Linked DNA regions of Homo sapiens: region 1 is reported to be linked to region 2. The links are microRNA targets in miRTarBase. Many come from high-throughput screens and were not tested one by one. Region 2 holds a microRNA gene; the other region holds the end of a gene's coding sequence. Distances are from middle to middle.

Region 1 (5,006 bases), 84 Mb from region 2:
GCTTGCCCCCTGCCAAGACCCGGCCCCTCCACAGGACAAGCCTGGTCTTCCTGGGTCCTGTTCCTTTGCCAGCACCGTCTTGCAGCCCCGTCTTCACGGGATGCTTTTGTAACTGCTGTGATCAGCCCTGACCTGGGCACCTGTTTGTCTCCCCAACCTTGTCTCCAGGATGTGTCCTGCTGTCTGCCCCGTGGGAAGAGCAGAGAAATCATCACCACCTTGGGCCCCACGGTGCCACGGGCTCAGGCAGCACAGTAGGGCGCCGGGCCTTTGGGACAGTGTCCCAGCTTCCCCTGGGGTTCACCCCTGGCTGCCAGGCCACTGAGGATGGGCAGGGGTCTCTTCTCATCAAGCCTTGTACCAGGCAAAAGACAGGCCCTGCTTGGCCGTGGTCACTGGCCGCCAAGATCAGGGCTACAGATGTCTGCTCTCTGGACCCCACGTGATCTGGCCACTGGGGACCCCCACCCGACCCCACTCCCAATGATGAGGGGCATTTTCATTGCAAGTCAAAGGCAAGACAGGCTTCCATAAAGTCCCAGGAGGTCCCTCCTGTAGGGCACAAGGCCAGGCTGCCTCCCAGCCCCCAGGCCCTCTCCCACCTACAGAGACCCTCCCCTGCCCCCTCCACTCCGGGGCCTGTGCCGCCAGAACCGGGCTCTGCCCCCATACGCTGCCCTCGCAGCCTGGCGGCCTCCGCTGTGGCTGCCTAGCTGTCAAGAGCAAAGGCTTTTTTTTTCTTCAACCCCATTTTCTTCCATTTCTCCCACCTTTTTAATGCCAGTAACCTCACTGAGAATGTTTTACAGTGATGGAAAATAAACTCTGTTCCAAGTTCAACTCTGAATTACTGTGTCTGTCAAGGCAAGGGGAGTGAGGTAGGAAGTCAGACCTGCGTCCAAAGCTGGCTCTGCCACCTGGGCAAGGTTTTCACGCTCCCAGTGCCCAGTTCCTCCACCCACAGAAGGAGAATCATGGCCGGGCGCGGTGGCTCACGCCTGTAATCCCAGCACTTTGGGAGGCCGAGGTGGGTGGATCACAAGGTCGGGAGTTCAAGACCAGCCTGACCAACATGGAGAAACCCCATCTCTACTAAAAATACAAAAATTAGCCAGGCGTAGTGGTGCGCACCTGTAATCCCAGCTACTCAGGAGGCTGAGGCAGGAGAATCACTTGAACCTGGGAGGTGGAGGTTGTGGTGAGCCAAGATCGTGCCTTGCACTCCAGCCTGGGTAATGAAGTGAGACTGTGTCTCAAAACAAAACAAAAAAAGGAGACTAATGGGAGTCCCCCCTCACTGGACTGCATGAGATAACATCACAGCACACGCAGGCACCTGGGACTCACAGCTCCTACAAAACTCTCCCATCACGTGAGTGCTGAGGATGACGCCCATGAGATGGGGCCAAGCAGCAGGCAGCGACCATGAGATGGGGCCAAGCAGCAGCCAGTGGGAGGCCACAGCCTCGGCAGGGGGAGGGAAGTGGGCAGACCCCAACCACACTCCCCCAGAGGCCGCCACCTCCAGCACAGGCCTGGATATGAGAGAGGGGCCTGGGGGCTCAGGCTGCGCTGGGGAGATGGGTGTCAGCAACGCTGGGTGCTTTGCTAGCTCCTGGAGTGTGGCCTGGCCACATCTAGCTGGGTACCTCATGCCCCATGAGAGATCCCAGAGCTAGTCTAGAAGGTAAAAGCCGTCCCTCAACCAGGCAGCCCCATTCTGCAGACACAGGACAGAGCACACAGGGGCCAGAAGCAATGACTTAAAAAAAAAATTGTTTATTTTATCTGAGACAGGATCTCACTCTGTCTTCCAGGATGAGTGCAGTGGCACAATCACAGCTCACTGCAGCCTCAACTTCCTGGGCTCAAGTGATCCTCCAGCCTCAGCCTCTCAAGTAGCTGGGACTACAGGCACACCCCATCATGCCTGGCTAATTTTTTTTTTTTTTGTGTGGAGTCTCGTTCTATCACCAGGCTGGAGTACAACGGTGCGACCTCGGCTCACTGCAACCTCCGCCTCCCTGGTTCAAGTGATTCTCTTGCCTCAGCTTCCCGAGTAGCTGGGACTACAGGCACGTGCCACGCCACCATGCCTAGCTAATTTTTGTGTTTTTAGTAGAGATGGGGTTTCACCATGTTGGCCAGGATGGTCTCGATCTCCTGACCTTGTGATCCACCTGCCTCGGCCTCCCAAAGTGCTGGGATTACAAGCGTGAGCCACTGCACCTGGCTTTTTTTTTTTTTTTTTTTTTTTGGTAGGGAAGAGGTCTTTCTATATTGCCCAGGCTGCTCTTGAACTCCTGGGCTCAAGCAATCCACCCGCGTTGGCCTCCCAAAGTGCTAGGATTATAGGTGGGAGCCACTGTGCTCGGCCTCTGACACTAAATAATGTCAGTTAAGGGAATGAGAAAAAGGGCAGGTCACGCACCTGGAACCTGGGCTGTGCCAAAAGGTCAAATGTGCACGTATATACAGTGACTAGGTGACAAATGCAATGGAGCATCCCAGGCTGGGATGAAGGCCAAGGCCACCTACCTATGAGGAACAACCACTGCCTGGCTGGAACGTTCCAGAACCCAGTGGTTTCCATAGCTGCCCTACGACTTCCGAGATGACTAAACCCACCAAGGACTCTATCACACTGCTTGTCTTGGCCACTCACCCACCGTGGATGTGCACAGACCAGTGGCTCCCACGCAGCACAGGCCAGACAAAAGCTGGAAGGTGAAGGCTTCTTACCTTAGAAAGACAAAGTGGGGCAACCGTGGAAGGCCACATTCCAGACACTAAGGGGCCAGGAGCAAACGCAGCCCTGGGCCCCGGCCCTGGGGAGATGTCAGGCCCGTCACATCCCAGGCAACATGTCAGGAAGATGGAACTCAGGGGTGCTTTCCCGCCCCAGGTGTCTTCCGCCCTGCAGAGCAGCTATGGATCTGCAAAGGGGACTGGAATGCTGCAGAGCCCCGGGCTCCATTTGGAAACTCTGGCAGGATGAAGAAGCTGGAGACCACGTCCTGGGAAGGCTGGGGTACAGCAGGGCTCCCTGCAGCAGACGAGGGGTCCCTCAAATTCATGTGCACCCAGACCTCAGAATGTGACCTTATTTGGAAACACGGGTTTTGATGATATAATTAGTTAAGATGAGGTCACAGTGTATTGGGGGACCCTAAACCCAGTGAGTGGTGGCCCTACCAAAAAAGAGACTGGGCATGGCGGCACACACCTGTAACCCCAGCTACTCAGGAGGATGAGGCAGGAGGAACACTTGAGCCCAGGGATTCGAGGCTGCAGTGAGCTATGATCATGGCACTGTATTCCCGCCTGGGGGACACAGCAAGGCCCCGTCTCAAAAAAAAAAGGGGGGGGGAGCAGGTGGGGGGTACACACAGAGACAGCGCACAGGGTCACAGACACACAGGAGAGGGGTTGGGACGTGGGGATGAGGCTGTATGCCAGCAGCCACTGGATGCTGGAGGCAGCTGATGGACCCTCCCAGGCCCTTCAGGAGCCAGCCCCACGAACACCTTGAGTGTCGGCTTCTGGCCTCCTGAGTGTGTCTCTGTGGCTGAAGCCCCTGCTCTGTGTCACCTGTTCTGGCTGCCACTGGACACTCAGAGCCTGTCCTTGCCCTTGTTCTGCACCCAGTGCCCAGCTTCCTCTGCGGCCTGGGCATCCCAAATGTCCCCTGCTGGCCTCATACTGGGCCATGGGAGGAAACGGGCAGCTGGCAATGCTTTCGGACCAGGCTGTCTAGCAGTTTCCTGAATTCTGTGCCCAGGGATGAGAGTCCTGGAAAGGGAGTTTCAGGCCTGGTGATCAGGCTTTGGCACCGGGGCCTCCAGGAGCCACCGGCTGGAGCGTCGGCAAGGAGCCTGCCCCCATGTGGGTCCGCTGGTGCTTGTGCAGGTCGGTGCCCCGGCGGAAGCCCCGGCCACAGGCCGGGCAGGTGTAGGGCTTCTCACCTGTGTGCGTCCGGCGGTGGGCGCTGAAGTGCGAGCTGTTGTTGAAGCGCTTCCCGCACTGGGTGCAGGCATAGGGCCGCTCCCCGCTGTGTGTCCTGCGGTGGATGACCAGGCTGGAGCTCTGGCTGAAGCGCTTCCCACACTCGGGGCACGGGTAGGGCTTCTCGCCTGTGTGCACCCTCTGGTGCGTGCTGAAGTTGGAGCGGTCGCTAAAGCCCTTCCCACAGACTAGGCACTTGTAAGGCCGCTCGCCCGTGTGTGTGCGCTGGTGCTTGGTCAAGTGGGACGTCTTGCTGAAGCCTTTGCCACATTCGGGGCAGGTGTACGGCTTGTCAGCCCCATGGGAAGCCCGTCTTCCTGGTGGGGGGCCGCCTCTTGGCTGATCAGGCCTGACCAAGCCCCTGACTGGGGCTGGCCTCTGACCTGGGAGCGGGTGGCCAGGCCCCTGGCATCGTGCCGAGAGCACTCGGTACCACTCCATTCTCAACGGGGCATCCTCCCTGCCATCACCGCCGTCCTCCAACTGGATCCCAGGTCCTGAGACAGAGAAAGCACGATCTCTAGGAACTCACAGCAAGAGGGCAAGGGAAATCCTTCTAATAGGAAAATGAAGGCCTCACAGGGCTCCTAAGGTTCCCCTACAAAACATTTAGCAGGGGCTGGGCACTGTGGCTCACGCCTATAATCCCAGCACTTTGGAAGGCTGAAGTGGGAGGATTGCTTGAGCCCAGGAGTTCAAGACCAGCTTGGGCAACGCAGTGAGATCTCGTCTCTACAGAAAATAAACAAAACTAGCTGGGCATGGTGGCGTGTGCCTGTAGTCCTAGCTACTCAGGAGGCTGAGGTCGGAGGATCACTTGAGTCTAGGAGGTCAAGGCTGCAGTGAGCTGTGATCGCGCCACTACATTCCAGCCCGGGTGACGGCATGAGACCCTGTTTCAAAAACTAAACAATCAATAAAACAAACAAAGAGGAACGCACTTGACCATCACAATAACCCAGTGGGTCAGTGCTGTTACCATCTCCATCCTGCAGATGGGG
Region 2 (3,747 bases):
CCAGCAGTGCTGCATCCTCTGAGCCCACCCTGTGCCGTGAGGGTGTGGGGGTGACAGGAGGACCCCACAGTGGGTGCACTGCTGAAGCGGGTTCTCTGGCTGCCTTGAGCAGTCGCAGCAAAGCCAGACCCATGTGGGCCAGCAGCGTGGAACCCACGGCACCTGTCCTGGGGACTCTGCCCCAGCCTGGGGCTGGCCTCTGGGCTTTCCCATAGCCTCCAATCTGATTGTCCCTAGGCCCCTGAAAAGGCCAGCATCCACCGGCTGATGGAGGCCTTCATCCTCAGGCTGCAGACCCAGTTCCCCTCCACTGTCAGCACTGTGTACAGGTGTGGGTGTGTGTGGGTGTGTGCGGGGGGTGCGCGGGTGTGTGCTGTGCGCGGGTGTGTGCGGGTGGTGAGCTCACCACTCGTGCTCAGGCCAGGGCTTAGGGTGGAGCCCCAGCCCGTGTGATTCACCTGCTCCTCCCACAATCCGGCCACAGGACAAGTGAGAAGCTGGTGAAGGGCCCCCGGGATGGCCCTGCTGCTGGCGACTCCGGCCCCCGCTGCCTCCTCTGCATGTGTGCCCTGGACGTCGACGCCGCTGGTCTGTGTTTCATGCTCTTGGGGTGATGCGGGGAGGGAGCCAGGGAGTGGGTGTGGGGGCTCAGCAGCCCCAGGCTCCGTCACCCCCTCTCTGCTTGCAGACAGTGCCACGGCTTTTGGGGCTCAGACCTCCTCGCGTCTCTCCCAGATGCAGTCACCCATCCCCCTGACTGAGACCCGGACACCCCCGGGGCCCTGCTGTTCTCCAGGGGTGGGCTGGGCCCAGCGCTGTGGCCAGGGGGCCTGCAGGAGGTGAGTCCCTGTCCCTGCCACCCATGGCCAGCTGCATGGGGCGGGAGGGGGACCTGTCCTTACCCCACACTGCACGGCATTGAGGTGCCAAGGTGGGCACACAGCCAGCTCTGCTCCCGCAGGGAGGACCCCCAAGCCTGCATTGAGGAGCAGCTGTGCTACAGCTGCCGCGTGAACATGAAGGACTTGGTGAGTACGTGCCCACCTGTCCTGGGCCGGGCTTGGGGACGCGGGAAGGCCGTCACCTCGTGGGTGGCTTGAGGGGGTGCTGGCAGGTTTCTTGGCCCCTCGACACCGGCCTCTGTTGCAGCCCTCACTGGACCCCCTGCCGCCGTACATCCTGGCTGAGGCCCAGCTCCGCACACAGAGGTACTGGGGCCCACACTGCCGTGGCGCGTGGGTAAGGGGCCTCGGGGCTGGTGCCCACTGCAGCTTTCTCTCTAGGGCCTGGGGCTTGCAGGAGATCCGGGACTGTCTGATTGAGGACAGTGACGACGAGGCGGGCCAGAGCTGAGCGTGAGGACGTGCTTGCCGGGACAGCAGGCAGTGGCCACCTGGTACACCACACTGGAGCCGGAAGGCAAGGACGGGGGACTGGCCTCTGATTGTCCATTTGTATAAATAAAACATTTTTTAATTAAAAAAAAAACTCTACAGTACACGTGGGGGACGGCAGCGCCACGCAGGCCGTGGGGACGCAGTGTCCTTCTCTGACAGCAGCATCAGGGCTCAGGCAGGCCGGGAGGATGCATCACAGCTGGCGGCCTTGGACGGGGCAGTGGCTCCCCCGGCCTGAGGAGTGCCGCCCCTTGTGGCCACGCTGCCCAGCAGGCCGGCTCCTTCCCTCTCGGGCGCCAGCAGCAGCTCCTACTCCTTCTCACGAGTCCACTTGATCATGGTCTCCGGTGAGCGGTAGAGGAAGATGAGCTTGGCGTACAACTCCTCCTCCAGCTCCAGCTCCCGAGTCTCCCGCACCAGGAAGATGTCCTGGCAGAGCTTGAGGATGCGGTCCACGCACGGCAGCTCCTCGAACATAATGGAGTGCGAGATCTCGCTGAAGAATCCGCGCACGAACTTGCCGATGACCAGCACGATGGACACGTACAGCCCCATGATGCTGCGGGGGAAGCTGGTGAGTCCTGGGGCCGCCCGGAGCCCCCCGAGCTGCGGGGTGCCCCCCCAGCCACTCACTCACCCGTAGCCAGCCAGGAAGCCGAGGCTCGGTGGGCTGACCTTGTCACTGAAAATGACCATGGGCAGCAGGTTGCAGTCGGTCCGGCACTCCTGCAGCTCGATGACCCACCATTCGAGGAAGCCGGTGGCCCCCGCACCCTGCTCCCTCCGCAGCTGGATACGCACGCCGAGGTAGTCGGCCTCCTCATCTGGGATGGAGGGAGAAGATCGTTGAGGCCGCAGGTCACCCCTCTCTAGCCTCCCCCAACCCCCACGCCCATACTCACTGGGCTGCAGCTGCTTCACAGGGTTGGCTTCGGGCCCGTTGGGGGCACGGATGTACTTGGGGAAGAGATTAGGGATGACCCTGCAGGGAGGTGCTGGCAGGTCAGGCCTGGCCCAGCCAACCTGGCACAGCCCTCCTGCCCACCACCCGGGCCCTTCACTCACACAGACTGGTCCGAGGTGCCCTCGAGCAGGCTGGCCAGCTGCCGCCGTGCAGTGCTGTTGGGGGCCAGGGCCAGCATGTGCTTCTCGTTGGCATACTCCACAGTGCCTCCCTTCGCCAGGTCCCTGGGGGTGGGAACACAGCGTGACCCACTGTAGTGGGTCCACCCACCCAGGCACTGCCCCAAGTCCAGGACGAACCTCTGGAAGTTCCAGGTGAAGCGCAGGGTGATGTCGGCCGTGCCGTTGTAGAGCTCCCGCTTCATCTGGGCACGGCTGGGGGGACTGATGCGCCACAGCGCCCCGGAGCTGCCCTCAATCTGCGCCGTGACGATGTCCTCAGGGCTGTACTGGCTGATGAACTGCATGGCCAGCTGGGTACAAGTGACACCCTCAGTGACTGCAGCCGCCTCCCCACACCAGCTTTCACAGGGCAGAGGCCACTTACCGGCTGGGGGTCAAACTGCCGGGACAGCTCCTCATAGGCCTGGGCCGTGAAGGGGATGATGGACGGCTGCTGGGCGCTCATGGTGAACAGCGGCTGGGGCAGGCACGGGGACACGGGGCCACGAAGATGAGCGTGGAGGAGCGGCTGGGGGTGGTGCACCACCTTGGCCAGAACCCCCAGGGGATGGGAATGGACAGGCGGACCCACACATGCTCACCTCATAGCCGCCCAGCTTCAGGGTGACGGTGACATCGATGGGCTGGTTGACAACCCCAACCACGGAGCGCACCAGCGACATGAAGAGCAGTGGGAACCAGATGATGGCGATGAGGAAGAGGATGATGAGGCCACCCATGCCGTACTTGACGATCTTCTTCTTCTTCTGCCCTTTGGGCTGCGGGTATTTCTGGAGGGGAACGACACAGGTCATACGCTCAGCTCTGCCCTTCCTGCGGGTCACACAACCGCATTCTCCAGCTCACCCAGCAGCCCAGAAAAGCCCCAGCCTGACCTCAGTATGGCACAGCGGTAGTAATGGTGGGCAGACACAGGCCAGTGGAGTAGAACTAAGAGTCCAGTTGGAACCCTCATGTTCAGGGGTCGTTGATCTTAGACAAGGGAGCTGTGACCGTTCAGTGGGAACGGACAACCTTTTTCAACACGGTGCAGGCACCGCCCCAGGCAGGAGAATGAAACGCAACTCCTGCCTCATACCATGTGCCAAAATTTACCTCAAAGTGGATCAAAGAGCGAAACTTCAGAGCTAAAACTATAGAACTTTTAGAAGAAAACGGGCAAATCTTCATGAACCTGGATTTGGCGAAGGAAACAAAGTAAACC

Evidence for each region. Region 2 holds the annotated microRNA hsa-miR-4722-5p (GGCAGGAGGGCUGUGCCAGGUUG, at 2,417-2,439, opposite strand). A microRNA usually pairs through its seed, bases 2 to 8, with sites in the 3' UTR of a target mRNA and lowers its output. Matches are read on the target gene's strand: a 7mer-m8 pairs with bases 2 to 8, a 7mer-A1 pairs with bases 2 to 7 and ends in A, and an 8mer does both.
Region 1: miRTarBase lists ZNF500 as a target of hsa-miR-4722-5p. Seed matches in the 3' UTR shown: 7mer-m8 at 3,256-3,262 and 7mer-m8 at 1,161-1,167.

The regions. Positions count from the first base shown.
Region 1 is chr16:4,748,557-4,753,562 of GRCh38, forward strand. It overlaps ZNF500 (zinc finger protein 500), which reads right to left. Exons shown (of 6, transcript NM_021646.4): 6 at 1-4,502. The coding sequence ends at 3,820. It overlaps DNAAF8 (dynein axonemal assembly factor 8), which reads left to right. Exons shown (of 10, transcript NM_139170.3): 10 at 169-840. Among named protein-coding and RNA genes, the nearest start is that of ZNF500, 16 kb to the right of the region's middle.
Region 2 is chr16:88,713,899-88,717,645 of GRCh38, forward strand. MIR4722 (microRNA 4722) reads right to left here and starts at 2,439; the gene lies at 2,380-2,439. It overlaps CTU2 (cytosolic thiouridylase subunit 2), which reads left to right. Exons shown (of 15, transcript NM_001012759.3): 10 at 238-329; 11 at 485-588; 12 at 689-839; 13 at 962-1,028; 14 at 1,150-1,208; 15 at 1,284-1,498. The coding sequence ends at 1,353. It overlaps PIEZO1 (piezo type mechanosensitive ion channel component 1 (Er blood group)), which reads right to left. Exons shown (of 51, transcript NM_001142864.4): 45 at 3,125-3,313; 46 at 2,908-3,000; 47 at 2,661-2,833; 48 at 2,463-2,585; 49 at 2,300-2,379; 50 at 2,035-2,221; 51 at 1,440-1,956. The coding sequence ends at 1,707.